Linked DNA regions of Homo sapiens: regions 1, 2, 3 and 5 are each linked to region 4. The links come from fine-mapping of genetic effects on plasma protein levels. Region 4 holds a variant in brackets. A gene starts in each other region. All regions are shown on their forward strands.

Region 1 (5,000 bases), not on the chromosome of region 4:
TGGTCAATATGATTTTGTTTCATGTGCATTATCAGAAACTCTTCCCAAAGAGGGTCCTGGGATCTGATCAGCTAGACAAGTGGAGGAGAAACTGAAAACCCTCAGGGGACAGGGTCTCAGTTAAGTCTCCTGAATGATAAGCATTTCAGAGGTGGGAGGGAGACACCCCGGAAGGTGTCCAGAGGCTAACAATGCTATTTCTGTTTCTTGTAAGTTTTTGTCCAAGATGTGGGCCATTGGATTGCATCACTAGCATACAATGTCAGTGTAAGCAGTAGGCTTTACACTAAAGCATGTTGATGTGCTCAGAGCATTTTTGTGGTGCTGAGACCAGAGCAGATAGGGATACAGGGATGACAGTCTCCACCTTACGGAAGCCTCCTACCCAGGGGATGGAGTGAGACAGGCAGGCACACCAGTTATCCAAGGAAAGGAAATAAAGGGAAGGAGAAAGTCAGTGAAAGTGGTCAGGATGGCTGAGTGAGGGAGAAGGTGACTTGAAGGTCCCAGATAGAACAGTGGTAATAAGGTGAGAAAGAGGAGGTCTTCCAATTCCATTTCTGTGTTGGGCGGGTGTTTGAGAGTCCCACCTGGGTCTAGAGGCCTGCATGTCTAGCAGGACACTGGGTAGGAGTGGCTGAACGGGGACAACACTTAAAAAAGACAAAAATTACGGATTTTATTTCTACATGGTTGCACAAATCAATTTCACTTTCTACTTGTAAACTGCTTAAAAACCTTCATTATGAAAATGGAAGGACGAATTTATGTTCACCATCATAGTGCTTCTGGGCTGGTTCCACAGCATGGAGCCAGGCCCACCTGCTGTAGCTTTCAGAACTGCCATTTGGACACGTGGTTGAAGCAGCCTTCAGTTGGAGGATTCACAGTAATGGCATCACTGTGGGAGCTTAGAGGAACAACTGCTTGCAACCCCAGCTGCACTGGAATTACCTGGGAGCTTTAAAAACACTGCCTTTTGGGCCTCAGCCCCAGAGACTCTGACGTGACTGATCTGAACACAGGAGTGTCATGTCCTCCGGTGATTCTGAGTGGAGTCAAGGCTGTGAGACCTTCTGCTGTATAAAGGAATATTGAGAGCTGGGATTGTTAAGGAATTCTCTTAATGCTACGTCACTGGCCTCTGATGTAAGCCTGCTTTCTCGAGGAAAAGGAACCATAAAAGCTTCTGGAAACAGATTGTTTAAGAATGAGAAATTGTCATCATGCCAGGTTGCAAGACAGCTTTTAGGGCAGATGAGCTTCTGCTGCTCATTCCTTCATCTTTTCCTCCAGCCTGGATTTGTCCGGGGGCAGCTGAGGCTCAGGTTACCTCAATTCTTGAGTTTCTGAAGAGGCATATCCAGGGGTGGGTTACGAGAACAAGAGCCTGCCCAGTCTGAAAGGGATGCAGGAAGGGGCGGTGTGTACTAGAAGGAAGGAAGCTATCATCATTTATTAAAACTCTTCTTGGAGGATGGCCCATGAAGACCTCCAAACAAGCTGGAGGGGCCAGTCACTTGCTGAAGACTAGCGAAGTGGAGGGGGAAAGCCCGAGGGAGCTGCAGACTCGACCACTGCGCCCTCCCCTCCTCTCCCTGCAAGGAGCCCAAGGTGTGATCCTGCCAGGCGTTCGTTCGCTGCATGACCTTGGCCATCCTTCCATTCCCCTGGGTGTGAATTCTCATTGGCAAAGTGAGCTGGTGGGCATAAGTGGGTTTTAAGTTTAAAAATTTAAAAACCCTGTCTGCCCCCAAGTGTGGTATCAAGATTTTATAGTATGACACTTAAATTGCTTTTTTCATCCGGGCGCGTAACAGCAACAATGAAACCAGCAGATAACGCGTGAGTAGTATCAGCTCTGGGCCTGGCACTATTTTATATGTATTAGCTCATTTTTTTTAAAAAACTGTTTTCAACCACTCCATGAGATGAGTGCTCTTATGATCCCTTTTTCACAGAAGAGGAAACGGAGGTACAAAGAAATTAGTGCACAAAGCCAGTCGGAGAGAGCCCCTGGCCAGGCACCAAGCTCCAGAGGTCGCTCTGGCGAGCGTTTGCTTCGGGATCTGATGCCCTGGAGTCGCCAACTCAATTCGCGGGTCGCAGCCAGGCTCCATGGGGGTAGTAGAGCCAGGTCGTAGTGGCTAGGTGAGTTGTCTCAACTAACTCTAGTGGAGCCGCCGCAGCCCTGGAGGAGCCGGGCCGCGACTCGAGAGCGCCCGGCAGCTCTCCAATGCTTTGGAACCGGCGGGACCCCTGCGGGCTACCCGGGGCAGGGCGGTGTCCGCAGGGGTCTGTCCAGCCGCGCCTGCTCCTCCGGGTGGAGAGTTGGGACACCCGGCCAGCTCGCTCGCAGCCCGCGGACTGGCCCAGCCGAGCCGTCTCCGCCCGTTCCCCGCCCCCGCAGCGGCGGGGCTAGAGCCAGAGCCGCGCCCGGCAGTTCCCGGCCGCGAGGGCGGGCGCAGCTTGTGGCCGGCGGCCGGAGCCGACTCGGAGCGCGCGGCGCCGGCCGGGAGGAGCCGGAGAGCGGCCGGGCCGGGCGGTGGGGGCGCCGGCCTGCCCCGCGCGCCCCAGGGAGCGGCAGGAATGTGACAATCGCGCGCCCGCGCACCGAAGCACTCCTCGCTCGGCTCCTAGGGCTCTCGCCCCTCTGAGCTGAGCCGGGTTCCGCCCGGGGCTGGGATCCCATCACCCTCCACGGCCGTCCGTCCAGGTACGGGGAAGCTGGAGCATCCGGGGACTAGGTAGGGGTGAGACGGACCACAGCCTTGACACCTTCGAGTCCCCCGCTCTGCAGGACGCCGTGAGCGTCCTCCCTAAGTTGCACTTGGTTGTCAGAGTGTGTTGTGTAAGAAGGGGATGGCGGTGAGGTCTGCGTGTGTGTGTTTCTTGTGTGGAGCAAGAGTTAACGTTGTTCAGGTCGTTTGAAGGAACTTGCCAGTTGTTCTGGAGGGGGGTTCTAGGTAGGTGTGTGACTTCCCGTGTGAATGGCTTTCAGGTTTTCTATCCGGCTACGTTCTACAGGTTCAGGAGCGTCCCTCTTAGAGGTTAGGCTCAGGACCGTCAGTCTCCTTAACAAGGTAAGGGCTGAGGCCTTAACCACACTGGGGAGGGTAACTTGTTGCCCCTCCAGATAAAGGATGGTGCTAGGGAATGTAGCTACAAGCAAGTAGGCGCTGAGAAGACACTCATTATTTACAACAGTCATGCCCAGCACTTTACAGTTTATAAGCCCTTGACAGCAACTGGTCTTTTACCCTCCCTACAGTCTTGTGAGGAGGGTGCTGTCATCACCCCTGTTTTACAGCGGGGGAAGCAGAAGTTTAGGTGACCAACTTGTTGGAGGATGATGTCCTGAAGGAGGGTAAGACCTCTGCATGCAGCCCCCCTCTGTCTTCCCTCCCACTCGTCCTGCCTGCCAGGGCTTTCTCCTCTGCACTGCCGGGAGGAAGGAAGGCCGCTGGGAAGGCACGCAGATGCTGGCTCCTGCTGGGCTGTCTCTCCACTGCCTTATCTTTGGGGCAGGGTAGCTTCTCAGATGGCCACATTCCTGTGATTTAGCTTTACATTCTAGGAACTGAGGCAAGGGACACCATGAACTTGGGCTCTTGAGGTCATGGAGCAAGGGTCCATTCGTCACGGGAATGTGATGGATGTCTCAGTCGCTGCGGTTTGGTGCCAGGCTTCTGGACATTGAATGTATGAAACAGAACTCCATGACTATTGATGAGCTGAGGAAAGCCAGAGGTGGCATGGGGACGTTCACTGTCCTTTTTGCCATCCAGTTTACCAAGCGGCTATTGGCATTGTTTTCTTTCTCAATCCCTTCTAATTTATTGTGTGATATCTCATTTGATATTTCATTTAATATTCTGTATTCATATCCGATGTTAACGTTTATGCTAGACAGAAAGGTAGAGCCTTTGAGAATGGGGTTTGCTGGGGCAGGGGTGTGGAACTCTGATTTATTTTCAGTCTCTGGCTAGCTGCCAAGCTGCTGTGTGTGAAGCGTCTCCTGCACCCGTCCACTCTCATGTGGCCTCCATGCTGTTCAGGAAAGGATATTTGATCTGAATTCTCACATGACCTTGGCAGGCCCAGAGCAGCACCCCCATTTCTAATAGGCCCTGCTTGTATGTCATAATGTGACATCAAGTTTTTTTTTTATGGTTCTGAAACCTGTGACATCTTTTGAGTCAACCTCTCACCATTGTTGAAACACTGCTTAATAGTAGATTCACTAATTTATTAAAGATTTATTGACTATCTACTATGTGCCAGGCACTGTGGTGAGTGGTGGGGAGACAGCGGTGAATACGACAAGTGAAAACCTCTGTCCCCTTATGGACATGAGTCTTCTTGGTAAGACATAGGATGTCAGCAGTCTCTCTTCAAAAGGGGGGTCTTTGAAATCCGCCCCTTTGTACAAGGGTGTGGATGCACTGGCTACCTAGAGGACACCACTCAGCAGCCCCAATGGAGAGGACGAGGAGATGATGGGCACAGATGTAGCTCTGTGGTTCCCTAGAGAATCGCAGGGCTGCTATTCTCCAAGTTTGTGGTGTCCCTTGCCTCAGTTCCTAGGATGTGGAGCTCTAGGAGGTGGAGCTACACTCTGTGGCTTGGCCATGCACAGGGACCAGGGCAGATGGAAACCCTGTGGCTGGGATGCATCAGTGCGAGCTGAGTGTCCACCTGCAAGCTGGGACATTATGGAGAAGACATCTCAGTAATAAGAGAGGCAAAGCTGGACAATTGCGGTGAAACTACCATAGCATAGTGGGTGGAGAAGTACAGAGATCCTTATATTCTTATGCTACATAATGGATATACTAGGTTCTTGCCATTTTAAAAGAAGTTGTCAGGGGCACCTGTGGCTCACCTGCCATGGCACAGCTCCAGGATGCTACCCATCTGTTGCCGTGAATGGGTGCTTGGTTTGCATTTTCTTCTTCTTGAGGTTGTGAGGTGGGCTGGTGGCACAAGACAAGGATCTG
Region 2 (6,574 bases), not on the chromosome of region 4:
GCCACTTTACAGGTGAGGAAGCTGAGGCACAGAGAAGCTTCTGCCCTCGCCCAAAGTCACCCAGCTGGAGAGAGACGGAGTCAGGATTTGAACCCAAAGAGTCCGGTTCCAGGCACTCACGCGTGAGGCTGCTGTTGCTGTGCTATTGGAAGAGCTGCTGCTTCCTATGCTGAGCCTCCACGCTAAGCCTCTGAGACGGGGCCCTTCTGAGTGTCGGGATCCAAGGTCCTGGGTTTCCTGCTTCACCTGGCTGTGACACCAGTGGCTGCCCGCCCCTGGTCACTGTGGGTGGCATGGAAGAAAGAGCTCACTGGCTTGGTGATGTCCTCCTGCCCCCAGCAGATATCCCTGACACGGGGCATCTCTGGAGGTCATGGCCGTGTGCGAGCAGAGCCCGAGGGGCTGCTGGGGGCTGGGGTTCTTCCGGTCCGCCAGCTTTCAGATGATGCTTCCAGGAGTCCTGGTGCCCAGAAGGGGCCTCAGGGCTGCTGGGGAGAAGAGGGGAAGCAGGAGCCCCCACCTCTGCTTTTGTCTCAGTTGTCTCTTGAGTGTGCCTGTGAGATGTCTGGGGCTAAAAAAGGACCTTGACCTTGTGCAACAGACCAGGAAACTCGGCCTGTCAGGGACAAGTGGCCTGAAGTGACCTGGCCAGCCAGTGGTCGTGCATGGACCTGGGACCAGCCAGGGAAGGCGGGGGAGGCTCTTCCCGTATATCCAGCCCCAGGGGGGTCTCAGGGACAGCTGGCTTCTATCCTGGGCCAGGAAGGAAGCTCGGGGACAGGGACGGCTCTTGGGGTTGCTGAGGCCCCCTCGCTCTTTCCCTGGGGCTGCCTTCTGAGTCCTGGTCCTCTTCCGGGGCTGCCAGCCACCTCCCAGCTGGCCACATGGTCCCTTGGTGGCCCCGTCCCAGTCAGGTGTGAGAACTCTGGCTGGGTCTGCCCAGGAGGCTCCTAGGATGTTCTGGGTCCTGGGCTGGCAACAGAGAAGAACCGCAGGATGCCAGGGAAGGTGGTATTGGTGGGCCACTCTTGAGGCTGTGGCCGGCCAGCCCTATCGGCTAGGTGAACCACACTACACACATACATTTGCCAGGCCTGCTAGGCCTCTGGGTGACAGAGAGGGGACCCACCTCGACAGCTCGGGCCACGTCCTTAAACTCCCGAGCCTGCTGTGGCCACTTTGCTGTGAGGACAGGCCCTGCTCCCACTGCGGCAGCCTAACATCCTCCCCAGGGAACCTCCAAAGTGGTCAGCCACGGCCCACCAGCCCCTCTGCCTCAAGCCTGCTTCTCTATCCCCGCCGTGTTTTCCCTGGAACCCCACCCTCCCGGGCATCCCCCACACATATTCCTGCTGTCCTATTTCTAAGCTCCTCAGATATCTGGAAAACACTGGCGGAGAAAATCCCCTTCTTTTTTTTCTCTCTCTTTTTTTCTTTTTGAGACGGAATCTCACTCTTTCACCCAGACTGGAGGGCAGCGGCGAGATCTCGGCTCACTGCAACCTCCACCTCCCAGGTTCAAGCAATTCTCCTGCCTCAGCCTTCCGAGTAGCTGGGATTACAGGTGCCCGCCACCACGCCCAGCTAATTTTTGTATTTTTAGTAGAGACAGGATTTTACCATGTTGGCCATGCTGGTCTCAAACTCCTGACCTCGTGTGATCCCCCTGCTTCAGCCTCTCAAACTGCTGGGATTATAGGCATGAGCCACTGCGCCTGGCCAACAATCCCCTTCTAAAGGCAGGTGGTGTCTCCAGCACCAGGGCCATACGGCTGCAACACCCCTACAAGTGCCGGTAGGTGTGGGCTGAGACCATCCTACATGGGGAAGGCCCTGAGAGGCCGGGAATTTGCAGGCCGAAGAGGGATCCTGGAGAGTGGGGGACTCACCTCAACAGCACTCTCTAAGGGGTAAGGAGCCCCTGGCATCAGGAGCTACCAGAGCACCTGCTACGTGCCAGTCATGGCTCCCTGTGGGCCTCAAGTCTGCAGGCTCTGGGGTAAGGGGTGGGGGTGGTGTGGAAGTGTGGCTGGCCAGGGGAGCTGGGGCCTGGAGGGTCACACACCTGCAGGAGGTCACAGAGCCAGGGGATGGCTGGCCCCACAGACCCGTCTCCCAGGTGGCCAGCCTGCAGCCTGTGCCGTCCTGCTGAGCCAAGAGAAGACACTGGGGGTGTTTGTGTTGGTCGGCTGTGGGGTCCCTCCCAAGGGAAACCGTTAGTCACCCTGGCGCTGGCTGGATGTGAGGCCACAAACGCCAGGAGAGCTCGGGGACTGTGCCAAGGGGTGCGAGGCCTGGCGGTCACCAGAAGAGAGAGGAAGGGGATGGCAGAGGCACCCAGAGCGAGTGTAATCCGGTCATGTGAGAGGGACTGGGTGTGTGTGTGCCTGTGTGTGTGTGTGTGTGTGTGTGTGTGTGTGTGCTGGGTGACAGGTGCCACCATGTCTGTGATTCAGCACAGCGACCCCAGGGGGCAGTGTGGGCCTGGGTTAGGGTTAGGGTTAGTCCTGGTTCCACACCGCAGGTGGCCCTGTGACTAGGAGCAGCCACCTTGCATCCCAGTTGCCCCAGCAGGAGAATGAGATGAATAAGACTTGCCTGCCCGAGGGTCCCGGGGAGAGAAACTTAAACAACCCGGCAGAGGAGAGAACCCGACACTCAGGAGCGCTGGCATCCCAGCCTTGCCTACTGGAGAGGTGACTTGGTCCCCGAACCTCAGTTCTTCCACCTGTGAAATGCAGATCATAAAGGTGGATCTGGCCTCACAGCTCTGGGCCCGTAGGACAAGCTGGACAGAGGGCAGACGGTATTATCGCTTTCACTACTATTACTGGTGGCTTTCCTTCCCAGCCTTTCTGGTGGGTGGTCAGACACAGGGCAGAACTTTCTCATGAAGGCAGCTGAAGGAACTCACAAGTTTCTTCCAGCAGGGAGGACAGAGGGAAGGAGAAGTGTCTTCCCGGCACTGCTGTGGGCCCAGGACATCTGCTGCATGGAGGCAGGGGCATGGATGAAAAGACACAGATGACCTGATGGAATGGTGCCCCAGCTTCCTCCTCCTCCCCTTTTTGGAGGTGCCTCTGTTTGCCGAGGATGGGCTCTGGGGAAGCTGGTGTGCAGAGGCTAGGTGCCCAGCCTTGCTTTAGGAAAGCCTCACAAAGTCTGGGGCCCGCCGGGAGTTTCCCAGGGGGGCTCTGCTGCTCCACCCACTCTCGCTCCCCTCTGTGCCCTGACTCAGCAGGAACAGAGGCTTGAGCTCCAGGCCTGGCCTGCCAGGGGCTGCCAAGTTGGTGCTGGACATCTGCAGAATCCCTGAGCCTCTCTGCCCTGGCCCTGGCTGCTCTAGCCATCTGGTCAGCAGGCCACGGGCACATCTGTCTCCTCCCTGGAGCCCTTGGTTCATTCTCGCTGGGTCTCCCTGCGTCCCTCCACCTGCTTAGGCCCCTGCATCTCGGGAGCTTTCTGAGGCTCGTGACCTGGGGCACGGTCGTCCCGGAAGTTCAGCCTTTCCCTCCGTACAACGGAGCCATCAGACGGGACACCTCATACATCCCAGACCCCATTCTCAGGAGCCCCAGGGACAGGGCCCGCTCTGGAGGCAGAAGCCGGACAGGCGGGGCTGGGGCTTTGCCACCGCCAGCCTCCCCGGTAACCTCAGGCCAGCGGCTGCTCCGTCTGGACACCCGACATGTGGCCCCCAGTTCTGGACCCGGGAAGAAGGCCTCCCTGCTCGCCGCTCCTGGGCCGCCGCCGCCGGCAGCAGCCAACAGGCAGCTGGGCCGGCCTGGCCGGGCTCCAGAGGCGCAGAGCGGGTTAAAGTGTGCGCCAGGCCGGCCGGCGCGGGCGGGGGAGCGGCCTGGTGGGAAGTGTGAGTGTTCCTCCCCGTCTGCCTGACAGCTATAAAGGCGGCCGCCGGCGCAGAGCCGCCACTGGGCTGCGCCCCTCCCGGGAACCCCCTCTCTTGGATGCTCTTTGAAGTGGGAGAGGGAGGCGGCGCGGGGGAGGAGGGGAAGGGGAGAGGGAGGCCGGGCCGCAGCCTCTGCACTCACGCCGCCCCCGCACGCACAGCGCACCTGGCGCCGTCTGCCCTCCGCAGCGCTCGCCCCTTTCTCTGGGAGGACAACCTGCTGACCCGAAGCCAGGTAGGCCACCTCGTCCCCGTCCCCCTCACGTTGCAGCGTCCACCAGGCCAGCCCACTGCTCAGAGTGGGGCTGGGGGTAGGAGCACCCCGCGCCCTCTGGAGCCGTTACATAACGTGGGGAGGCTTGTGGGGAGGGGTCGGGCCGCAGAGCACGGGGCAGGGTGGCCTCCCAGCACCTAGCCTTGTGCGCCCGGAGCTCTGTGTGCACGGCAGACCTCTCTGCTGCCGCCAGCCGCTGCTTTTGGACCCCAGGGAGGGATGGATCCCCGTGAGCGAGGCCTGGCCAGAAGCCAGTGGTGTCTGGAAGCCTTAATGAAAAAAGCAAGTGTGAGGCCGGCTGGCACCTGTCTTCAGCCGGCAGGCAGAGGCTGGGGCACCCGTTAGCCAATGGCACAGTGGAGGGGGCTCCTGTGGGTGTGAGGCTGAGAGTGCAGATGGAGGTCTGCAGGGGAGGGAGGTGGGGGGCAGGCGGCGGGGGCAGGGGAGGTCAGACTCAGGCTCCCCACTCCAGGGTGCACTGCTGCGTCGTCCGGGCTGCAGTGGTGTCCTTGGAGTGGCCCCTGAAAATCTGCAGGTGCCGGGCCTGCAAGGAAACTCTTCAAGTTGGATGGAGGCTGCTGAGGAGGGAGGGGCAGAGCCCGAGTTGGCCTCTGGCCTGGCAGGGGTGAGGGGTGACCTCCATGCCTTCTTCCCCTGGAATTGGCCAGGCGTGGGGGTCGAGTCCCTGAGTTTGCTAGTGTGCTACCTTGCTGTGTGGCTTTGAGCAGGTTGGCTCCCCTCTCTGGGCTCCAGGTTATGAGTGCAGGCTGCGTGGTTTCTGAAATCCCTTCTCTAACTCGCTGGCAAGTGACCCTCAGCACCTGAGCAAGGCCTGGACAGAGGTCATGGTGGATCTCTGGTCTTCCCTTCCACAGGGCAGGGTCGACGCTGAGGAGGGGGTGGGGAGAGCTGAGGGCCTGGAGGCTGGACAGTCCCTTCCAATGGGCTTGCTTTGACCCCTGGCAGGTGTTTTGAGCCAAGGGTGCTGGCTGTTGGGAGGAAGTCAGCCTTGTGGCCCTGGACTGCTGACATGCTGGCACAAACTGCACCTCCTCCTGCCCTGCCCCTCCCCCAATTCCATCTTCTCTCCGGGGATCGGGAGGCGGCATAGGTACCTGGGTTCTGCCTCACCTGAGTGCCGGCTGTTGCTGGATGCTGACTGTGGAGCTGCTGGTCTAGGGCGAGGCTGCACATTCCCCCGGGACCTGGCCAAGCCCATCCCCATGCACTGACCCTAGCAGCCAGTGGCAGAGGCCATTCTCCTGCGAGGCCAGCAAGAGCTGAGCCAGTTAAAATCCCAAGGTGCTCCTGCCAAGGCGCTGGACTGAGCCCAGGCCCATCCCTTCGAACCAGAGCCTTTCCCCCCGCCTGGGTCCCCAGCCCCCTCAGCCGAGGCTGGCTGTCTCCACAGCCCTTCTCTAGGGGGCTTGAGGACTTGGAGGCAAAGCATGGCATGCTTCCCTGCATGCCCTTGGATCAAGGGTGGCACAGGCTTAGCACGCACACCGCCGCTGGGTGTCTTGCCTGAAGCAGGCATTACTAATCATTCACCAAGCTCCTTCTTGCTAAGCCTAGACTGAGGCGGGGGGTTCATCCTTCCCAACAGGGTCTGCCAGACAACCACGACCAACTAGTCCCAGATAACCTTGAGGCCTGGGCACTGGCTGGGCCCCGAGGGCTCTTCCCAAAGCGTACCCTGGTCATCTGGAAGAGGATCGGAGCTGGCCTGGTGGTGACAGTGGCCTTGCTTCCTAGGATGGATGGCAGATGGCAATGTTCCTGCTGGGCCTGGTTCCTGCTGGTTCTGGCAGTTGTAGCTGGGGACACAGTGTCAACCGGGTCCACGGTGAGTGGGGTGTTGTGGTCTGAGGGCCCATGCCAGTCCCCTACCCAGGTGCTGTGATCACTCTCAGATGGACTGGCTTGGAGGGAGCCGTGTGGGCACGTGCCCCAGGTCCCAGAACCCATCTTGGCTCCTAGAAACTTCTGCCCAGAGCCAGTCAGATCAGCCTCTGAACTGGGGCCCTGGCTACTGTGGAGCCCCTGGCGACTTGGCAGGCGAGGGCTGAGGGGGCTGAGTGCTTCCCTTCCAAGTGAAGGCCCCAGCACGGCCAGGGTAGGCTGTGTCCTGCAGAACGCAGTTGGGCCCTGAGCTGCTCCGGGGAAAGTGAGGACAGTTAGATGCGGCCCCAGGAGCTTGCCAAGCCCCCAGGCCATCCTGGACCTTAAGGTCAAGGAGGACCCGTGGCCCACGGTTCCTTGGGAGTTCCCCCCAGCGCCACCCAGGAGATCTGAACCCAAGCTGCCGAGTGACCCTGCAAGGGGGCCCAGCCAGGGGGCTGTGTCTTCTGGTCCCGCTGACGGTGATACCCTCGGGCATGGGGTGGGGGCAG
Region 3 (6,469 bases), not on the chromosome of region 4:
TAAGCTGTGATCTACATCACCACTGCAGCTCAAGAATGAATTTGGCTAATGGCCATAGCAAAGATAACAAATCAACAATTTCATTGGAATTCAATACACCCCAATGTTGCAATATAAATCAAAGCAGATCCATTCAGAACCTTCAGTAAATCATATGACATTTGAATTCCAAGCAACTGGAACTTTACAGCAGGGATCCAGGTTTAGTCAAAATTGTTATACAATGTTTATTTATATTCAAGTATAGGAGTTACCTGAAATTGAGTGATTATATTTTTTAAAATTGTAACCAGAACATCAGTTCATTAATTTGACAGTTGTCTTTCCATGCTGCAAATAATAACCAGCGTTCATCATTTAGCAGTCATGTACAGCGCTCCCTACATATTAGTATTTTTATTGAAAAATACATTAAACAGTTCAATATATTCAAATTAAGGCAAATAAATTTTCCAGTTCTAATTGTGCCATTCTCTAACCTCGGTCAACTAGACCTATATATGAAAAGCTAAAGGATCAGCATACTGAATTTATTATTCTGAAGCAACGATGTGTAGCAAAAAAAAATAAGCTTGCTTTTGCCTCCTTTCAAAATATTAATAAAGTGACACTGACCCCACTCCTGTACTTGTGTTGCTGTGGTGATGCCCACGGTGGAAGAAAAATTTGGTGATAATTATGCTTTCAATATTGGCATGGTTTCCTGAGATTCCCGCAAAGTGATGCTTTCAAGATGCTGCATATAATTCTTCCACCTCAGAGACACTTCAGGCTATTCTTCTAAGAGAACTTCAGGTGTATTTAGGTAATCTAAAACTCATAAAACTTGAGGCTCATTTTCTTTTCAATTTGCTTAGGAATATAGTGAGACCAAAGGCAGATGCAAAAGTTACTTAATATATGTCCTGGGGCCGTTACATCTGACTAAGAGGTTACCTGACCTACCATAATCAGGTGAAGAGGGTTGTATTCCAAATGTCATTGTACTGTCACTTAAGAAACTGCCTGGGAGATGAAAAATAGAAGGGGACAAAAATAATTGATATCACATCTGAGTAATAAGTCATCAGGATTCAAGGTAAAAAACATCCATTCTCCTCACATTGATTTGCAATGATGGTTGAATGCGGCATCCAGTTATTACTGGAAATGATTTTATTTACATTCTAGATCTTACTTGCCTCATTTCTAAACCTACAATTTTGAAACTCTGCTTCATTTTGTGCAAATCACAACTTCAGGTAGATCTGGGGTATGTCATCCTTGCCATTTTGTTCATATTAATAGACTAGTCCTCTTCACAAATGATGACATTTTTAAAAATCAGAACTACTTAGTGCAAATCCTGAGTAGCTGCTCCTCTGACCGTAACTCTTTAGAACTGGGCATCTTCTATGCAGACATTTTTGAATTTTCCAGCAGAGTCAGCATTAAACTCTCTACCACAGCACATACTTTACCATATATTTATACTAGCCAAACATAAATACATAAATAAAATCAACAGAACTTATTACAGAGGCTCAACTGCATTATACCATTCCAATAAAGTGCAATGTCAAACCTAATAAATTTGGCTTCCTCCTGAACACATTAGGTTGTAACTCCAAACCAAAATATGACTTCCAGCTGCAGCAAAATTCATAAGATAGAATGTGTCAGGATAGATGAAATACCTACTAATGCTGTCCTGAGCCTTATCTGTTAAATTTGTGGCTTTTGCCATGTATATGTGCTCCCAAGTCTAGTAAGCTTAAATGTGGTTCTTACTGATAAATCACTGGACTCAGTCAAAAAAGAGGGAGAGCCAGAGCCCTTAGAGAACAGGTATCATTAATAAGTGGCACTTGGTGTAATTGATGGGGGCACCATAAGTCTTTCTATAACTTTGTAAGACATGCAGTTGTCTTTTCCTTCTATTTCTGTACTTCCCCTCTTGATCTACTGCCTCTTTTCTCCTTTCTATCCCATTTTCCTTCCTTTCCTGCCCATTCCAGCGTGGCAGTGTTATTCAAACTGTAAGAGGCAATCTACAGTCACTCCTGAGTTCAGTTTAGTGGGCCACAGCCAAGCATTTAAAAAATCGACTACAATAGAATAATATTTCATTATATATTGTTATATTACTTATTACATTTATATAATTACACGTATGTATATATAGTATACATATGCACATTACACACACACACAAAAGCCAGTGACGCTGCTAATCCTTCTACATTGCATAGGGCAGCCCCCACAACAAATAATCATTTGACCAAATATATCAACAGTGTTGAGTTTGAGCCCTGATGTATACATATATGTAACTATTTGAAAACATCTGTAAAATGAAAGATGGAATTTTTTTGAAGTTATTTTAAATGTTTGACATTACATGGCTCCAACTAGAATCATAAATATTTTTTCTAATGCTAATTCTGTTATCCAACTTAAATTAAGATGTTGGTTTCTGACTAAAATCAACCATTTCACCAAGAATGGGAGTAAGGGTAAGTTACTTAAATTTTCTGAGTCTCACTTTCCTCTTTTGTAAAGTCTGGCTAATCATACTGGCCTGTTGAGGATTGTCATGAGAAACATAGAAAACAGATATAAAATATTTTGTATAACTTATTTATTTTAAGAAGTGAGTTAAAAATTTTTTTAGTTTAAGATTTATTTGCACATACATGTACCACCGTTCAATTTTCAAGAGTTCTGTATACATCCCATCCTTACTGACTCCACATAGCAGGTGCCAGTTTTACACATGGGGAACTGAAATTGGTGTAATGCTGTTTTTGTCCCATTGTGAGAAAGTAGCACGGGTGGAATTTGAACCCAGGTCATTGGGCTCCAAGGGCTTGGATATGTATTTGATTAAAAGAAAAACTGCCCTGGGTCTTGGCCCAGCACTATTTCAATCAGGCCAAAATGCCTGCCAAATAATCCAAATAATTGAATTGAATTGAAAAATATCCACCTTTTCAATAACATCAGGAACAAAAGTCTACAATATCCTGTAAACTATAATTACTAATATTAAGGGCATGTCCGCTTTGTTGCGTTTCTTTATTTAGGAATTTGTTCTGTGGCACTCTTCTTTGAAACCTTTGGTTGGAAAGAAACTATGTTCACTGAAAATGCAGCACATTTTGTCTTCTTTTATATGTTTTAAAGCTTTCTAGTTCTGGATAGGTGTGAAGAAGTTGAAAAAGCAACATTCTCAGGTAAATTACGTACTACACAGTAATAGGACATCCTTTACATCATCCTGGAAACATATGCGCTTTTTATCTCACTCATCGCAGGTGAAATTTCTGGTTTTCTTCTAACCTTAGAATGAAATTATAAAAACCCAGGCAAGATTTAGTTTTATTTCTCTGTTTTTCCACTAGTTTTCCAATCGGGATCTCTATGTTGTTTAGTAACACGAACTTCACAATAGAAAGTAGCTTACAGTAAACCAAACCCCCACCACATGCAATTTACCTATATAACAAACTTGCACACGTACACCTGAACCTAAAATAAAAGTTTTTCAAAAAGAAAACAGCACATGGATATAAAGATACATTTACAGTGCTAGTATAAAGAAGAATAATGTGATTTTTATTAATGAACAGAAGTACATTAATATGGTGTCTCTAGTATTCAATTCTATTTGGAAATTTTCCTCTAACACAGAAGCTTTTAGAAAATTCAGCATAAAGCAGCTTTCAAATAAATTGGCATATTTAAATTTTTCACAGACTTCAAACTCTCCTCCATTATAACTGTCTATGCAAAACCCTCTCAGAAAGTTTTATATTGCTCATCAATTTTCGTGTCTGTGCATTCAAAGCACAGCTATCCACCTACTTGAAAATTTTATGCTGACAAAAAGAAAAGTCTGCTCTTTTTAATTTTGTCTTACTATCAGTGTGGTCCCATGTGGAAAGGCAGGCTGCTAAATGCTTTTCGAAGGCTGGTGAACAGGTTAGACTTGCTTACAAGGCTAATTAAAATTGATGCATGCCATCTATTACATGTTACTACTGGATCTAAATAAAGTATCACTTTTCATCATTAATGCCATGTTCCTTCTCTACTCTGTATAGAAGTTTTTGCTTATTTTGTATGTTCCCTTTGGCTACAGACACATCACCCTTCTTAGTAAACTGTCTGAGTTTTTCAGCATGACTGTCTCATTATTTCTGTATTGGAATGGCCTCTTAGCTCTGTGTTTTGCAGTTGTTTATAACATCTACTAAAAGCGACATGAAAAGATGACACAGTCAGAAATACGGTAAAGACAGAAGTAACAGTATTAACTGACCTCATTTAGTTAATAATATGATGTGCTCAGTGCACTGCTTTTAGTCTGTAGCAAACAGCACATTGGATGTTTACACTAATACAGATATTGTAAAAAGAAGAGCAATGCTTCTGGATATATAACCGTACATACACTGCCCACGTGCTTATGTGAGAACTATGTTATTCCGAAGTTGCTTATCTGAATGGTAGGAAGATTTCAAAAAGGCTTTCTCAAGAATGAAATAAAAGGAACAGTAATGACCCTTACAACTCCGAAGATACGATTATAATTCTTCCGACTATTATTAAAGCAAACTCTGTACATCTTCATAATATAAGATTGCCAGTAGTTTTCTTTTTAAAAAGCCCAGCATAATCTCCTTAGAAAACCATTATGAAAGAAAGCCAAGAAGAGAGGACAGGAGAAGCACAAAAGATTCCCACGGGAAGGACAAGAAAAAGGTGGTTGTCAGTGCTGTGAGAACGAGTTGAAAGGCATGGGAAATATGGAAACAGACAAATTCCAATGCAGATCCACTAGCTGGAGAGGTAATTTTGCGTCTAATTTTGCACCTCTCTCCTCGCCTCCCCGTCTGCTCTCCACCATCACGCTTTTCGACAGTAAGAAGGATTTGGGGTTTTGCAGACTCTAGCGGGCATGAAAAGGATAGGGGGTGGCAACGACTTGAATTAATGACGTTCTCCTACAGGATGGAGGGGAAAATGACTTAGTGTCATCAAATGAACTCCCTACTCCTGGCATAAATTTATCAAACTGCAACTTTATCTCGAATACTCTGGAAGAGTAGAGGAGAGGCCCTAGAGAAAGCAAGTCTTGAGGGGAAACGCAATGCTCTTGGCAAAAACCGCACCTCCCTCTTGAACTACACTGACTCTTTTCACAGAGCGCCTTCCTTTAATAGAATCACAACCACCTGGACTACTAATAAGAGGAAGAAGAAAGGAGAAAAGGGAAGGGAGGATGGCAAAAATCACGCTCTAGAAGATCCAGGCAACGTCGTCGTGAAGAATAAAGGGAATCAAAATGGGCACTGGAACGCTGCTAAGGGCTTGCTTTGTTAACACACTTGCACAACTCAAGTTCAGCTCTATCTTATGTTGAAAGTCCTTGTTTACGATCCTCGTAGGAGGTTCTTAAATATCTGCCTGCGAACTCCCAAAGACTGGGCGCTTACTAGTTAGGGGAGGCAGCTGTCCCGGAGGGTGTCCAGCTCGGATGGCTGACTGCTCTTTCACTTGTCGTTAACTTCCACCCAGTAGTCTTAGTCTCCCCTTGGACATGGTACCGACCGTGTGCCATTCTTATTTCACTTGACCGAGCCCGAGCTGCAGCCCAGGGTGGAAGCCGCAAGGGCTGGGCAGAGTTCCAGGCAAGAGGGACCGAGAGGCGTGAGCAGTGCTCCGCAGCGCTTGTCAGAGAAATGGAGCAGCGGCTCCTTTGTGGGCTCTTACATCCCCGTCCTGGGTGCACAGCCCGGATATTTGATCTGTGGGGTGATTGATAAGTGAGGGAGAGGGGGGACGCGATCCCTCCCTCCCTCCTCCCTCCCTCCTCCCTCCTCACTCCCTCCTCCCTCCTCCCTCCCTCCTCCCTCCTCCCTCCCTTCTTCCCCTCTCCTCCCTCCCGCTTTACTTCCCTCCTCCCTCTCGCCTCCCTCCCTCCTTCCTGCAAGAAGCGTTGCCCGTTGGCTAGCTGCTCGGTGGGGATCTGCCTGCCCTGGGGGCGCCGCCCGCGCTCCCCGCGGTGCTCTCGCTCCTGGGCTGCGCCAGTCCGAGGCGGTGCCGGCTCCTTTGCCTCCCCGAGTCGCAGATGCTGCGGGCGCCTCCGGGAAAAGATCTGGGCGGCGCGCTCGCTCGGTAAGTTCTGAGCACTCAGGGACGCGGTGGCGACGCGGCCAGTGAGCCGGCTTTCCTCAGTCCGTTGCCTTTCCCGGCCACCTCTCCTTGCGAGGGGCACCAGCGTGGGGAGGCTGGGCGCCATCCGCGGAGGGCAGCTCGCTGGCGGCCGCCCTCTACCCTCAATCCCCACTGGAGATTCCTCACCCCGGGACCGTCCGCGCGGGCGTGGTCGGGCTCCGCGCCTCGCGCAGCGGGGTGGCACAGGCGGCCAGGGAGGGCCCACGCACCCGGCGCGAGCTAGAAGCCTCCGGTCGGCCTGCAGTGC
Region 4 (6,612 bases):
TTTCTGAGCATGGATGCTAAATAACAGTGCTTCTTTTTAGCCATCTGTATTTCCTGTGAGTTAGCAGGGCTGAGGAGACCTATTCTCATTTCTTTGTGTGCTTCTCTATGGGGTGGAACTGGAGACTCAGGCAGAGCGTGTGGATTTCTGTGTGTGTGTGTGTGTCTGTATGTGTGTCAGGTGGAGGAATGAATGGCATCCTAACACCCTGGAATGTTTGGGTTGGAAAGGCTCTTGGATACAAACTAGTTAACTCACCTCCTCATTACCCAGGTCATATTTTTAAGCTTAGGTCCAAATGTGTGGGAGAGAGAATGCTGGAAAGATCTGGAGGTTGGAAGGTTGGAAGGAGTTTTGAAATGGGAGGGAATTCAGCCATTGCTTTCACTCCTCTTCCCGCCTGAGTCCTCAACAAAAGGGACATTTCCCCTTCTTTTAAAGACTTCCTGATAAAAGGAGTCTTCATGGACACCCCCATAAGCATAAGGCAGCACAAGGGAGGGAGCTCCGGTGGTGGCGGAGTTGGGACACTCAGGCACATGGTTGCAGAGGCGCAAAGGTGTGACCGTTCTAGGTGTATCTTCCACAGGGCCCTCGTGGAAGGGACCAACTGCATCCCCTAAAACTGCCAGGGCAGCTTCCCATGATGCTGGGCTGAGTCCAGATTTCTAGATTTGGCTGGTGCAAGCTCCTGGTTTGCTAGAAAATTGCTGATGAAATAGGAGGGTTGTCAGGCCATGGGACAAATCTGCCGCTGTCCTCAGGGGTCACCCTGCCTGGCTTTGTGTGCTGACAGTCATGACCCTTTGGACGTCTGCATGTTTGTCTCTGGGTGAGTGGCTGTGTTGGCATTTAGTTTTCATTTGCTATATGATGAGCAAAGAACCACAAAGAAGTCCTAAACACACCTGGTGCTAAAAAGTGATTACCCTTGCCCTTGTTTTAGGACTTACAGCTACTTTTTCTTTCTGTAGCTTCCAAATATTTTATTTTTTATAATTAAGAAAGTAAATTTATATTAAATTTCTTTTCTGAGACAGAGTCTCGCTCTGTCACCCAGGCTGGAGTGCTATGGTGCAATCTCAGTTCACTGCAACCTCCGCCTCCAGGACTCAAGCCATCCTCCCACCTCAGCCTCATGAGTAGCTGGGACCCAGCTCTGCCTGGCTAAATTTTGTATTTTTTGTGGAGATGAGGTTTTTTATGTTGCGCAGGCTGTTCTTGAACTCCTGGGCTCAAGTGATCCACGTGTCTTGGCCTCCCAAAATGCTGTGGGATTACAGTTTTGAACCACTGTGCCCAGCCTATGTTAAAATTAATTTTTCCATTTAAAATGTCGTTAATTAAAATTCATAAAATTTATATCAAAATCATAGCCTAGAATCTCTGCATATGTAAGAATCACTTTTTAAAAAGATGATTTAGGATGTTGATAGCATCTTATGAATTGTTTAGAGCTGCACTGTCTGACATGGTAGCCATTAACCACGTGTGGTCATCGAGTGCTTGACACGTGGCCAGTAGAAATTAAGATGCGCTGTGTATGTAAAATACACACCCAATTTCAAAAACTCAGTACAAGTGAAAATGTAAGCTATTTTCGTAATTTTTGTATAATGATTACATGTGAAATGATAATAGCTTATATAATATTAGGTTAAAGAAAGCATTAGAATTAATTTCATCTGTCTCTTTTCACCTCTTAATGTGGTTACTAAAAAATTTTAAATTACATATGTGAGTGTTGTATAAAGAAGAGAAGGTTAGCATTCCCCTTGACAAGGATGGAAGAGGCCTGTACAACACTCATATAACTTCGGCATTGCCACCTTCTTTGTAGCATCTAACCATGGTTTTGAGGATGGAAAATGATTGTGTAATTGGTACGAGGTTTCCTTTGTGATGATTAAAATGTTCTGGAACTAGATAGTGGTGTCAGTTACACAATATTGTGAATGCACTACATGCCACTAATAGTAAATGTTATGTATCTTTTACTGCAATAAAAAATTATGTGTGTCTCACATTATATTTCTATTGTGCAATGGGTGTTTAAAGAGGTAGAGGGTGTGGCTTTGCTTACAATAGTGTCTCTAGAATGGGGAAGAAATTGAAAGATACAATGATGGGATGAAGACTGCAGGAAGGGGTTGGAATTCTTTTCTCTCTCCTTTTGGTAAAAGTATGAGCATATATTTAAGTTTCCTGCCTTCTTTGCAGTCTGTCCCTGGGGGCCCCGACCTCTTGCAGCTCCTGACTCTTGACAATGCCTTCTTGTTGATCTCATCTCACTTTCCTCCACACTTGGCCGGCTGCCCACCGCTGTGTTTCTCTCTGAGATAATCCTGTCCCTATGATTCCTCTGGTTTACGTGGTGTTAAGGTGTTAGGGATCTTGACAGTTAAAAGTAACACAGAACACCCAGATCAGGCTCCACAAGCCTCCCCAGCCTCAGGCATTGCTGATGAAGAAAAAGTAAAGTCTTCTGTGCATCTCTGGAATCAGCTTCTAAAGAGTGACCCCTGGGAGGCAAGCCTGATGTGTGGTGCTCAAAGTCGGGACAGTGGTTACACTGGGTGGGAAGGAGGTGGGCGGTGATGGGGCCAGGTGCAGACAAGAGATTCTGGCCATGGGAAATACTCTGTTATTGATCTGGTGCTGATGACCCAAGTCTGTCCACTTTGTGAAAATGTATTGAGCTTGCGACTTGTGTACTTGTCTGAATGTGCATTACACATTAGTAGGAAGTTAAAAAACAGAACACATCACCCTGTAAGGCACATATGTTTCTGAGTGAAAAGCTAGCAGCCTGTGGTGAGCGAATGTGGTAGGGTGGGGACATGTTCTATGAGAATGGCCATCAAGGGTCCCCTTCCTGTGGGGACCTGGATTGACGATGCCTGTCAGAGTCCTGGAGGGGTGGGTTCTGCAGGTCCGTCCCACAATCCAGTCCCCAGATTAGAGATTTGTAAGTGGGTGACCCGCCTTGGAAAATTCCCCTCAGCACCTCTTATGTCTCTTGGCTCTCCATGTGGGGCACCCATACACATACAGAGCAGAACAGACCTGATTTTACATTTATCTTTTACTTTTTTTTAGAGACAGGGTCCTGCTCTGTCACCCACGCTGCTGCAGTGCAGTGGTGTGATCACAGCTCACTGTAGCCTCGATCTCCTGGGCTCAAGCAATCCTCCCGCCTCAGCCTCCCAAGTAGCACATGCCTGGCTAATTTTTAAAAATTTTTTTGTAGAGATGGAGTCTCCCTGTGTTGGCCAGGCTGGTCTCAAACTTGTGGCCTCAAACGATTCTCCCATCTCAGCCTCCCAAAGTGCTGGGATTACAGGCATGAGCCACTGTGCCCTGCCTTTTTAAAAAAATGTAAATTCTCAGTCCACAGTGTTGAGGATGTGAGAGTGAAGGGCTGCTCATCAAGAGGCTTGCTTAGTTGTTGAGTGTAGGTAAGACACTTAAAGAGAGTCACATTCTTGGGAGAAACTAAGATTCTTCCCTTGCTGTAAGAGGACACCATAAGAAGCCAAGGGTTGGCTCTGAACAGAGGGTCAAGCCAACCAGGCCCTGCTGTTATCACCTACGGAAATCCTGTGTGGCAGTAAATACAGTCCTCAGCAAAGCCTGGAGAAGAGATTACAGGGGGCACAGAGGGGCTGGGGATGCTAATGTGGAGGTTATTGGCCAGATAGTGGCCAGGAAACCAGAGACTAGGGGGGGTTCAGTTGGAGGAGCATAGGCGGAAATGGGAGAGAA[A/C]AATAAATAAATGAGATAAGCAACTTCATTTGCTTCCTCCCTTATTACTCTTTTGTTTTGTGTTTAGGACTCTGGTCTCCCCTGAGGTTGATCTCTTCTTCTGGGGACAACAGCCTGCAGGGTGATTTTGAAAAGCAGGCTCTGACTTCTACTTCCTTGTCCTGTACTCACCCCACCTGGTGTAATTCACCGTAATGCAGTGAACTTCCACATGGCTGCTGGGCATGCTTCCCAAAGCCAGCCCCTGGGCAGGGTTTCCCTTAATTTAGACCCCTGTCCCTACCTCTCCAAGTGCAAAGTGTACAAGGCTACACGCCCAGCTGCCCCCCACCCCCATACACACACTGGAGAGACCAAATGTTTGAGATCACTGTTGGGTAGCTGGGTCAAGAGAGCTTCATAACAATGTTGTTGGCATGTGGAGAGCTTTTCTTTTTCTTGGATCCCAACTGGAAATTATCAGCTTCGCCCCATGCTGACATGCGAATGTCCAGGCCTGCCTTTCTGCTGCAGGGCAATGCTCCAGGTTACAACATCGACACCAAGCAGTTTGTTGAGAAAACTTTGGACCTCATGAGCTGGGCAAGAGCGGCCTGGCAGGTGGTAGGAGAGCAGCCTGTCCATGCCTCAGCTGTGGCTCCACTGGCTCTGTGACTGTGCAGATTTTCTAACTTTTGAAGACCTCTGTTTGGATATCCATAAAATAGGTAAGATGGTGCTAATACCTACCTGTGATGTTGTGAAGATTTAATAGCATAATACTTAAAAGCACTTTGCATACATTAGCAAAGTGCCTAAATATTAGTTATTTGGCGGAGGCTATTAACCAGTGTGCTATGAGGTGCAAAGTAAGTTGTTACCAATAACTCAAAGAACTCCAGTTTGCAAATGTTTTACTTTTACTTAAGAGAATCTTTGCGGGAGAATTAAAACCAATTAATTCCCACCACTGGCCAAGAGCTCATGCTGTAATTATCCAAGACAGAATAGCTCAACAGAAAACCAAGTCATGCAATTCTGAGCACTTGTCCTTGGGATGCCACTTTGGGGCTCCCATATCTGAAATCATTTTGTTCTCAGTCCACCTGTGTGACATTTCTGTCCTGCTCAGCCACGGGTTCACAATAATCAAGGGAATGACCCAAGGGATTCACTTCTTCCAAGCAGCCGATGCCTTTGGAAGTTATGTTGACATTGCTTGTTTAAACCTAGGGCAAGAAATCCTTTCTCTGCCAGACCTGACTCTTCAGGCACACTCCTCAGTTTGGAGACGTGACTTGCCATGTAGTACTGAGAGGGAAAACAGGCCAGAAACAGCCTTGTTGAAAACTTCTTTTCTGCTTAGCTGCCCTCTGAACAGTCACCATAAAGATTGTGAGGTGCTGGAGCCAGGGATGACCTCATAAAGCCCTTTGCTAAATACTTAGTGAGCTGGTACTGTGGGCCAGGCACTGTGCTCATCATGAACAAAACCAAGGCAGACAACACTGTCATTAATGGAGCTTATCATGTAATACGGAAGCCTGGGATAAGCAACAAATTACACAAGTGACAAATGTGATGAGTGCTGTGAAGCAGAGTGCGGGGTGCCCAGGGAATCAGCAGAGCCCTGGAGGATAACAGCCTGAGCTCCAGGAAGGAAGGTTGTGGTGGTGCTTAGGGTCAGAGTGGGGACAAGCATTCCAAGCAAAGGGAAAAGCACATACACATGCTATATTAGTCAGGTTTCTCTAGAGGGACAGAACTAACAGGATAGATGTATAAATGAGGGGGAGCTTATTAAGTAGTATTGACTTGCATGAGCACAAGGTGAAGTCCCACAATAGGCTGTCTGCAAGCCGAAGAGCAGGGAAGCCAGTCCGAGTCCCCAAACCTCAAAAGTAGGGAAGCTGACAGTGCAGCCTTCTGAAGGCCCCAGAGCCCCCGGCAAACTGCTGGTGTAAATCCAAGAGTCCAAAAGCTGAAGAACTTGGAGTCTGTTGTTCGAGGGCAGGAAGTATCCAGCACGAGAGAATGATGAAGGCTGGAAGACTCAGCAAGTCTACTCCTTCCATGTTCCTCTGTGTGCTTTTATTCTGGCTGTGCTGGCAGCTGATTAGATGGTGCCCGCCCAGATTGAGGGTGGGTCTGCCTCTCCCAGTCCACTGACTCAAAAGTTAATATCTTTGGCAACACCCTCACAGACACATCCAGGAACAATAGTTTGCATCCTTCAATCTAATCAAGTTGACACCTAATATTAACCATCATACATCCCCTCCATGGGAAGGAGCATGATGCCTTATATAGTCTACTACCCTCAAACCAATCCTACTCCCTCATCCCCAACACCTTCTTCCCCTGGAACTCTAGATAGAGTTTCTTGACTAGACACATAAGCACAATTAGGCTATGCCTAATTATGAAGCCATCCCGGTTTATACATTTTCTTGTTATACTTGCCTATTTACAAGTTTTTCTTGTGAAAACTTGCCTATTCTTTTTGCTGCCTCCTCTCCACCCTAAAAGAGAAACTCTAAGGAAACACTCCCAGAGTTTATTATAGTTATTATGACTCAGATTTGAAGACTAGAATTTAATGGAGGTTTTCCTAACATTCCTTGGGGACTTGAAGGACTTTTTTTCCCACCAGCCACAGAAGTAAGATTATAAAACATTTATTTATTAAAAGAAAAGAAATCTTCTGGGCTCAAAGTTCTAGTTATTCTAAAAGCAGAGCACTTGTTCCATGTTTTCATATCGCCTCCCCACACCTACCTCTCCTCTCCCATTCTCTATTTCTTTATTTCTGTGCTGTAGTAATAAGCAAAACAGAGAAGCAATTGGTTTTAGTCTTGGATCTTGACC
Region 5 (6,612 bases), not on the chromosome of region 4:
GGACATAGGCCAGCTGCCCCAAGTTCCCCAAGGGGACTGTGCCACCCTGGAGTGGGCTCTGTGATGGACAGAGTCACCGTCTCCCAGCAGCTCCCAATCCATCCCATCACAAGTCAGGTCTAGGCACTGCCATCAGACTGATAGTTGAATTTTTCCTGCCAAGAGGAGGTCCCTAAGAGCCTGAGCCACAGGCGAGGGACAGTGCTGTCCTGTGGCCAGGCCCCGTTGTCACTGGGGAGTGGCCTGGCCTGTTCACTCACCCAGCTCCAGTCTGCACCACCGTCGCTCCACTTGGGGTTGTCACTGCCTGAGGTTAGGACGTCAGCAGAAGCCAGCCTCATGTGGCAGAGGCGATGGGGAATTACAGCCTGCAAAGGCTGATGGCATCAGAGAGATTCAGGAAAGCAAAGGGCTTATTAAAAAGCTGAAATTGGTTCTAAACAAGGTCAGCCGTCGATGCGCCTTGGAGGGAAGCCAGGCGCTGAGCAGCAGGAATGGGGCTTATTTCCTGACACCGTGGCCGTGACACCCTGCACCTCCCCGGCCTACCCCACCCCCAACCCCACTCCCACCCCCATTCCCATCCCCACCCCCACCGCCACCTCTGGAGGGCAACGTGCACCCAGACACTGGAGCAGAGGCAGCAGGGGTGGGAGCAGGGAGGAAAGCCCCCCGCGGGGCACCACAGGGAGGCATGTGGCCAAGAGAGCACCTGGCAAGCAGGTGTCACCTCTGAGGAGGGTGAGGGCAGGAGGAGAGCTGACTGTTGCTTCCTTACCCTGGGGTCGGATTGCTCCCTTTTAAAATCCATTAATGCAAGGAAGGGCGCAGCCACGGGGCCATCCGATTGGATTCGCTCCCTCCCGCCCGGCCCCAGTCTCCGCAGATTTTCTCTGCGGTTGCATTTTTCATTTGAGCGTCCCTTCCTCTTGACTCCAGTGGAATTTTTCTGACCTTGGCTGACAAGGTGTGCAGCCCCCTCCAGCTCAGGGCACCCTCTTTGGGGTGCTTGCCCCAGGCACTGGCCCACCCTGTGAGCTCAGGCGCATTGTCTCGCCTCTCCGAGGCTGACTCTCCTGTGTCTGAGACAGGGATGATCGCACACCCAGCCACCCAAGGCTGGCCAGGATGGAGGCAGGGCAGGGGAAGCCCTGGTGCGGCCTGACTTGTGTCTCCTGTCCCTCCCTAGGACTTAGTTATCAGTATTTTGGAATCAGCTGAATCATTTCTGTCAAATGCTAGAGGAAAGCCAGTTTTGAGTTGGATAAAGAAAATGTCTTTGATTCCTGTTAAAAATAAACATGTGTGCATAACACTGCTGAGCACGAGACCGCACCTGCCGTCCCTCCTTAGAGCTCCCAGCAGCTGTTGGTCTTTGGCGTATCCGGGAGAGGAGCGAGGCCTGGAGGTGTGTTGAGCCGTCCAAGGGCTGGTAGCATCAGGGGCTCTTCACTGCCTCTCGCTCCACAGAACCGCTGGGTTGAAGGAAGCTGGAGGGATCAATTGTCCTTGTCATCCAACTTCCTGTGTCTGTAGATGGGGAGGAGGCGCTGGGTTGGAAAGCGCTTCTCTGAGGACGCCAGCTGCGCATTCAGGAGGGCGGAGCAGGATATGACCCCAGAGCTCTGACCCCGGAGGAGCAGGAGGGGTGCCTGGGGCCTCAATACCCCAGAGGGGAGAGAGGTGCCCCCCTTCCCACAACGCGGGCCCCAGCTGGTGCTCGTTTAGCCTGTTGTCTAGCTGGAGCCACCTGGGTGGCCACCAGGCTGCTGGGAGGGCTCACCCCTGAGCTGGGTGTGCTGTGGAGCCCGTGACCCTCACCTCTGCCTCTGCTGGCTTTTGTTATCCCGTGCTGGGAACACCAGTGCCTGCCCACCCCGGAGGCTCTTCGTATCACCGGCTCGCTGTGGCCGCTCCCCAGTCCCGAGAGTGAATGTCCGGGATGCAGCAGACACCTGCTTACAAGGCACAGGTGAGGAGGTTTTGGAACTAATCTGAGGCATGAAGGTGAGGTGCTCTCAGGCGACGGAGGTGGCATGTCCTGATGGGAAAGCCAGGCCTTCGGAGGCTGAGACCCTTCCCAAGGCTCACCAGAGAACTCCCAAGAGTGTCTTTCCCCTGGCCTGGGAGACAATTTCACACCAATGCCACACTCTATTGCACAGGTGATTATGCACTTGGACCTCACCTGCCTGGGCTGTGGGTGGGGGCGAACGGTGCCCCTCTGGGTGCAATCAGTGGGGAGGGGCTCATGGCCTGAGCTTGGCTTTGCAGGATGGCCTGGCCACTGTGGGGCAGAGAGCACTGCCTGCGAGGGCCAGGGGAAGGCTGGCACTTTCTCCAAATTTCACGTTCGTGCAAAGACACAGTCATTCCTTTCTACAGCGTAGAGCTCAGAGCTGAAGCAGCCTCCAGACCTGCTGTCATGGGTATTTAAGGACCTAAATGTTGCTGTCAGCCTATGACATGAATGTGCCCCTAAGGCTAGATTCTGGGTTTCTCCAGAGAGACGAGAAACAGGAGGGAAAAGGAAGGAAGGGAGGGAGGAGGCTGGGGAGGAGGGACAGCTTCTAGTCCAGCTGGAGAGATCTGTCAACCCAGCCTGGGGGGTGGAGCTGGAGGGATCAAGCAGAATGTCCTGAAGGCAGCTGCCCTCAGTCTACTTGTGGGAGAGGACAGGAGGGAGAGGTGCCGTGGTGAGACTGACCCTCGGGCCCACGGGTGGATGATGGCAAAGGTCCTGTGGCAGGTGTGGGAGAAGCAGGGCTGCGGCCAGCTGCCCTGAGAGGCTTCAAATTCAGGCCAGATCTGCTCTGGGCAAGAGGAAGCTGTGGGTTTGGGAGCTTCAGAGACAGGGGAGCAGGCCTGTCACTCACCCTCTTTTCCTTAAAGGCTGTCACCCCCAGCAGTGCACCCTGCAGCCTGCCTATCCCCTGTGCAGCTCCAGCTCCGTCTGTCCCCAGCAATGCACCCCACGCCCATGTCCCCCACTCCCTATGATGCTCTCGCGCCTTCTGGAGCAGCAGTGGTACCAGCTGGAGGCTGTGGAAAAATTGAGAGGAGACAAAAGTGGGAAGAGCAGGCCGTGGAGAGAGTGTCTAAACACAGGGACTATTTGGAGATTGTCTTATTTTTGGTTTGAAATGGGCCCACCTGCTAGTATTGTACAAACGGCTCTGCTCGCTAGGCCAGGCCTGCAGTGGCTACGGGCCTATCCTTCACTGGTCAGCCTGGAGCAGCTCCTCGGACCTCAGTCTGCTCATCCGTGGGTAGAGGCGACGCAGACCCCATCCCACTGGGGACTGGGCCAGACAGCCTGTGAGGCAGTCAGCTGGTGCCTGGCCAGAGGGTGTCTGAAAGGCCTCTTGGCTGCAGGGTGCATCTGCTTTTGGGACAGCTCTTCAGAGCCATCTCAGAAGGGACAGCATCCGCCTGTCTACTTCAACTCCCACTGATGACGTCCATGTGTCATTAGTGCCAATTAGAGGAGGGCAGCAGGCTGAGTGCTTGGCCTGGGGCGCAAGCTTGTGGGAGGGAAAATTGGATTCCCCGCTAGACAAATGTGATTACCCGTGCTGCCTGGACCCACCCCATTCAGGACCAGGGCATAAATGGCCAGGTGGGACCAGAGAGCTCACCCCAGCCATGCCCGCCCTCAGTCGCTGGGCCAGCCTGCCCGGCCCCAGCATGCGGGAGGCAGCCTTCATGTACAGCACAGCAGTGGCCATCTTCCTGGTCATCCTGGTGGCCGCACTGCAGGGCTCGGCTCCCCGTGAGAGCCCCCTCCCCTATCACATCCCCCTGGACCCGGAGGGGTCCCTGGAGCTCTCATGGAATGTCAGCTACACCCAGGAGGCCATCCATTTCCAGCTCCTGGTGCGGAGGCTCAAGGCTGGCGTCCTGTTTGGGATGTCCGACCGTGGCGAGCTTGAGAACGCAGATCTCGTGGTGCTCTGGACCGATGGGGACACTGCCTATTTTGCGGTGAGTCTCTCCTCCCTGCCAGCTCTCCAAACCCTTCCTGACCCGGCACCCCATCTGGCCGTCTTTCTGCACTCACCCTCCTTAACCCAGAAAGTTCTTCTGTCACCTGTCAGTGTTTGAGTTGACTCTGCTCTGAGCCAAGTCTGCACCCCGAGCTTGGGCATCATGGGGATCTCAGTTTGAGGACAAAATAGGAAAGACATGCTTTCCATGGTCCTTGACTGCCCGCCCCAAATCATGGGACCCAGTAATCCCAAGGAATGGAACTATACACAGAGGACGCACACACCACACACACTCGTGCCGCTCCACACCCCACACGCGCATGAGCACAGACCCCACGACCCTCGGCCCTGTAAACAATGCCTAGTACCACGTCCCCAGAGCACACATGCCCACTGATGTGGGCCAGGTGGTGGCGCGTGGCTGGGCACAGCATGAGGCCTGCACACCCATGGGATCCAGCCTGACCTACTGTGCTTGTACCCGTGGACCAACTGAGCAGGTGCAGACACCCTGCCCCTACCCATAGGTGTTGAACAAGCCCCACAGGGCTCAGCCAAAACTGTTAGGATGGGCTCTTGACTCCTTTCCGTCCAAATTTACCTCCACTCTTGTTTCACAGGGTGGAGAAAGGGGAAAAGTTTCCCTTCAAACTGGAGGGGACTTTAGGCCCTTCCACAAGCTGCAGGGGGTCCCCGAAGTGGGCGAGCCCACCGCCTACAATGGGTCCTGCTCCAGCCTTCCTTTCCACATGGGACTGGCCACCAGGGCTTCTTTGTGGATGAAACCCAACTCTCTCCACAGAAACACACAAAGGAGTGACAAAAAAGTTTTATTTCTGAAGTCAGGAGGTGCCTGCTTTATCTGGGAGTGCCGAGCTGGAGCGGGGGAGCTGTGTCTGTGCGGAGCGGCCGGCTCCAGCTCTGCATCTTGGTCTCACCATGGGCTGGTGGGGCGGAGAGTCCCTCTCTGCCTTTTTGGGTGTTGTGAATTCATGAGGGCAGATGGTGGCTGCTGTTTCTGGAGCTGAGCTTGCCCCCTCCAATTCCCAAGACTCGGCCAGGAGGCACTTGCCTGTGTCGCTAGTGAGGCTTAGGGCCACCCAGGTAGGGTGAGTGGAGCTGCCTGGGAAGGGCCCTGCTCTGACCCATAGGGCTGCACAGATTCCTGTGCACAAAGACACTCTGTGGCTCAGGTTCCAGCCAAGAAAGACCTGGGACAGCCCTGATTCTGAGCCGTCAGCCGTCTGGAGGAGCAGCTGAACCCCATCGCTGACAGTTTGGGGTTCTTCGCAAGCCTCTGCCATGAGGCACCCTGAGTGCAGGAGCATTTGCTCCTCTCTGGGGCAGCGTCCCCCCTGCCTGCATTTCCCGGCTGCTAGGGAAGCCAGAGGAAGCCAGGTGACTTTGCCTTTCCGTGCACTGGCAAGGTTAATTTGCACAACAAATTCCTACGAAAGCAAATGTCAGCCTTATTATTCCTCCCTAAGCAATATGTTCAACTAATATCTTCTTGATTTCCAGCTGAAATATCACAGGCGAACTTTCTGCCTCTGTTTAAAATGAGTCTCTCGGCAAACCAGCGGTGTCCCCAGCGGGGTTGCATTGTGTGGCTTTTTTCTCTAGGGAAAGTTTTGCAGTATCTTTTGCAGATTTCTTTTTTCTCAAGGAAATGAAGAAAAGATGTTTTACCCTGAATGTAAGATTAAAAAGAAACACAACCCAAAGTCCTTAAGGCCAAGGGCCCGAGGCTTTCTTGGGGTTTCCATGGGAAAGGCCAGGCAGGGCAGGGAAGCAGCTTCGTTTGGACAATTCTGGTGGGCTCTGGGTGGCTGGGGTGGTCTCTAGTTGCCTGGTTCCTGGCCCTAGGGTGTTTTAGGGTTGGGGCAATATTGGCCTGGGGTGTGAGAGTCAGGTGGAGGAGGTAGCTAGGGATATGGGCTTGGTGTGGGTCGGAATGTTAGGAATATGATTCTCACACACGTGTGAATGTTGGAGGGCAGGACAGGTGTAAACAACTCTGACCATCTGTTTGAGCCTTCAATCAATTAATAGATGCCAAATAGACAAATATGGAATCTAAGAAGGGCCCTTCTTGAGTACGAAGGGCAGCCTGCTTGTTGGGGAAGGCTCCTCGCTGTCTCTCAGTGGGTCTCCCTGGTGGTCTTCCATGTGACCTGGCCTCGGGCCACCGTGTCCCTGCCCCTTAGGGCCCAGTGCAAGGGGAGCGGCCGGAGACGGGGAGGGCAGAGGTCACTGATCCAGATCCCAGGAAGCATCCTCGGAGAATGCAGCAGGTCCAATGCCTCCCTGGGCCTCAGTTTACCTTCTCCAAGCAGGGCTGGGACTAAGGTGAGGGGAACAATGCCTAGGCTGCAGGGTTTAAAGTGGTGCTTCAGGCTGGGTGTGGTGGCTCATGCCTGTAATTCCAGCACTTTGGGAGGGCAAGGCAGGAGGACCGCTTGAGGCCAGGAGTTCAGGACCAGCCTAGGCAACATAGCGAGACCCTATCTCAAAAAAAAAAAAAAAAAAATCCAAAATTACATGTATTTATAAAGTAATAAAGCAGTGCTTGTTCTCAGGGTTGTGCCAGTGCAGGGTGGGCACCTGCTATCAATCACCATCT

Alleles and levels. Positions count from the first base shown, and alleles are read on the strand shown. Strength reflects both the effect of a copy and how common the allele is.
With allele A in place of C in region 4, the plasma level of the protein whose gene starts at base 2,442 in region 1 is higher (weak association).
In carriers of allele A in region 4, the plasma level of the protein whose gene starts at base 3,929 in region 2 tends to be lower than with C alone (moderate association).
With allele A in place of C in region 4, the plasma level of the protein whose gene starts at base 5,965 in region 3 is higher (weak association).
For the plasma level of the protein whose gene starts at base 3,637 in region 5, allele A in region 4 goes with a lower level than allele C (weak association).

What was found. PIP is the chance, under the fine-mapping model, that this variant and not a neighbour inherited with it causes the effect. Protein levels are from antibody-based Olink assays in UK Biobank. Linkage for the fine-mapping came from a reference panel and not from the study's own genotypes, which makes the PIPs less certain.
Region 1: IL1R1 starts here. The variant in region 4 is fine-mapped to the plasma level of the IL1R1 protein (UK Biobank, PIP above 0.99).
Region 2: ADAMTSL2 starts here. The variant in region 4 is fine-mapped to the plasma level of the ADAMTSL2 protein (UK Biobank, PIP above 0.99).
Region 3: it holds the start of SLITRK2, and the variant in region 4 is fine-mapped to the plasma level of the SLITRK2 protein (UK Biobank, PIP 0.98).
Region 5: DBH starts here. The variant in region 4 is fine-mapped to the plasma level of the DBH protein (UK Biobank, PIP 0.98).

Annotation. Positions count from the first base shown.
Region 1 is chr2:102,140,305-102,145,304 of GRCh38, forward strand. IL1R1 (interleukin 1 receptor type 1) reads left to right here and starts at 2,442. Exons shown (of 12, transcript NM_000877.4): 1 at 2,442-2,716. RefSeq lists enhancers at 3,305-3,599, 3,365-3,659.
Region 2 is chr9:133,530,776-133,537,349 of GRCh38, forward strand. ADAMTSL2 (ADAMTS like 2) reads left to right here and starts at 3,929. Exons shown (of 19, transcript NM_014694.4): 1 at 3,929-4,142; 2 at 5,788-6,027. The coding sequence starts at 5,938. RefSeq lists a silencer at 2,446-2,535 and enhancers at 2,794-3,335, 3,336-3,875, 3,876-4,417, 4,958-5,499, 6,040-6,574.
Region 3 is chrX:145,811,865-145,818,333 of GRCh38, forward strand. SLITRK2 (SLIT and NTRK like family member 2) reads left to right here and starts at 5,965. Exons shown (of 5, transcript NM_032539.5): 1 at 5,965-6,162.
Region 4 is chr1:220,824,035-220,830,646 of GRCh38, forward strand. It overlaps LINC01352 (long intergenic non-protein coding RNA 1352), which reads left to right and starts at 5,221. Exons shown (of 4, transcript NR_110797.1): 1 at 5,221-5,408. It also overlaps the pseudogene RNU6ATAC35P and the pseudogene LOC124900455. The variant A/C (reference allele first, on the strand shown) is at 3,766.
Region 5 is chr9:133,632,727-133,639,338 of GRCh38, forward strand. DBH (dopamine beta-hydroxylase) reads left to right here and starts at 3,637. Exons shown (of 12, transcript NM_000787.4): 1 at 3,637-3,984. The coding sequence starts at 3,646. RefSeq lists an enhancer at 4,902-5,637.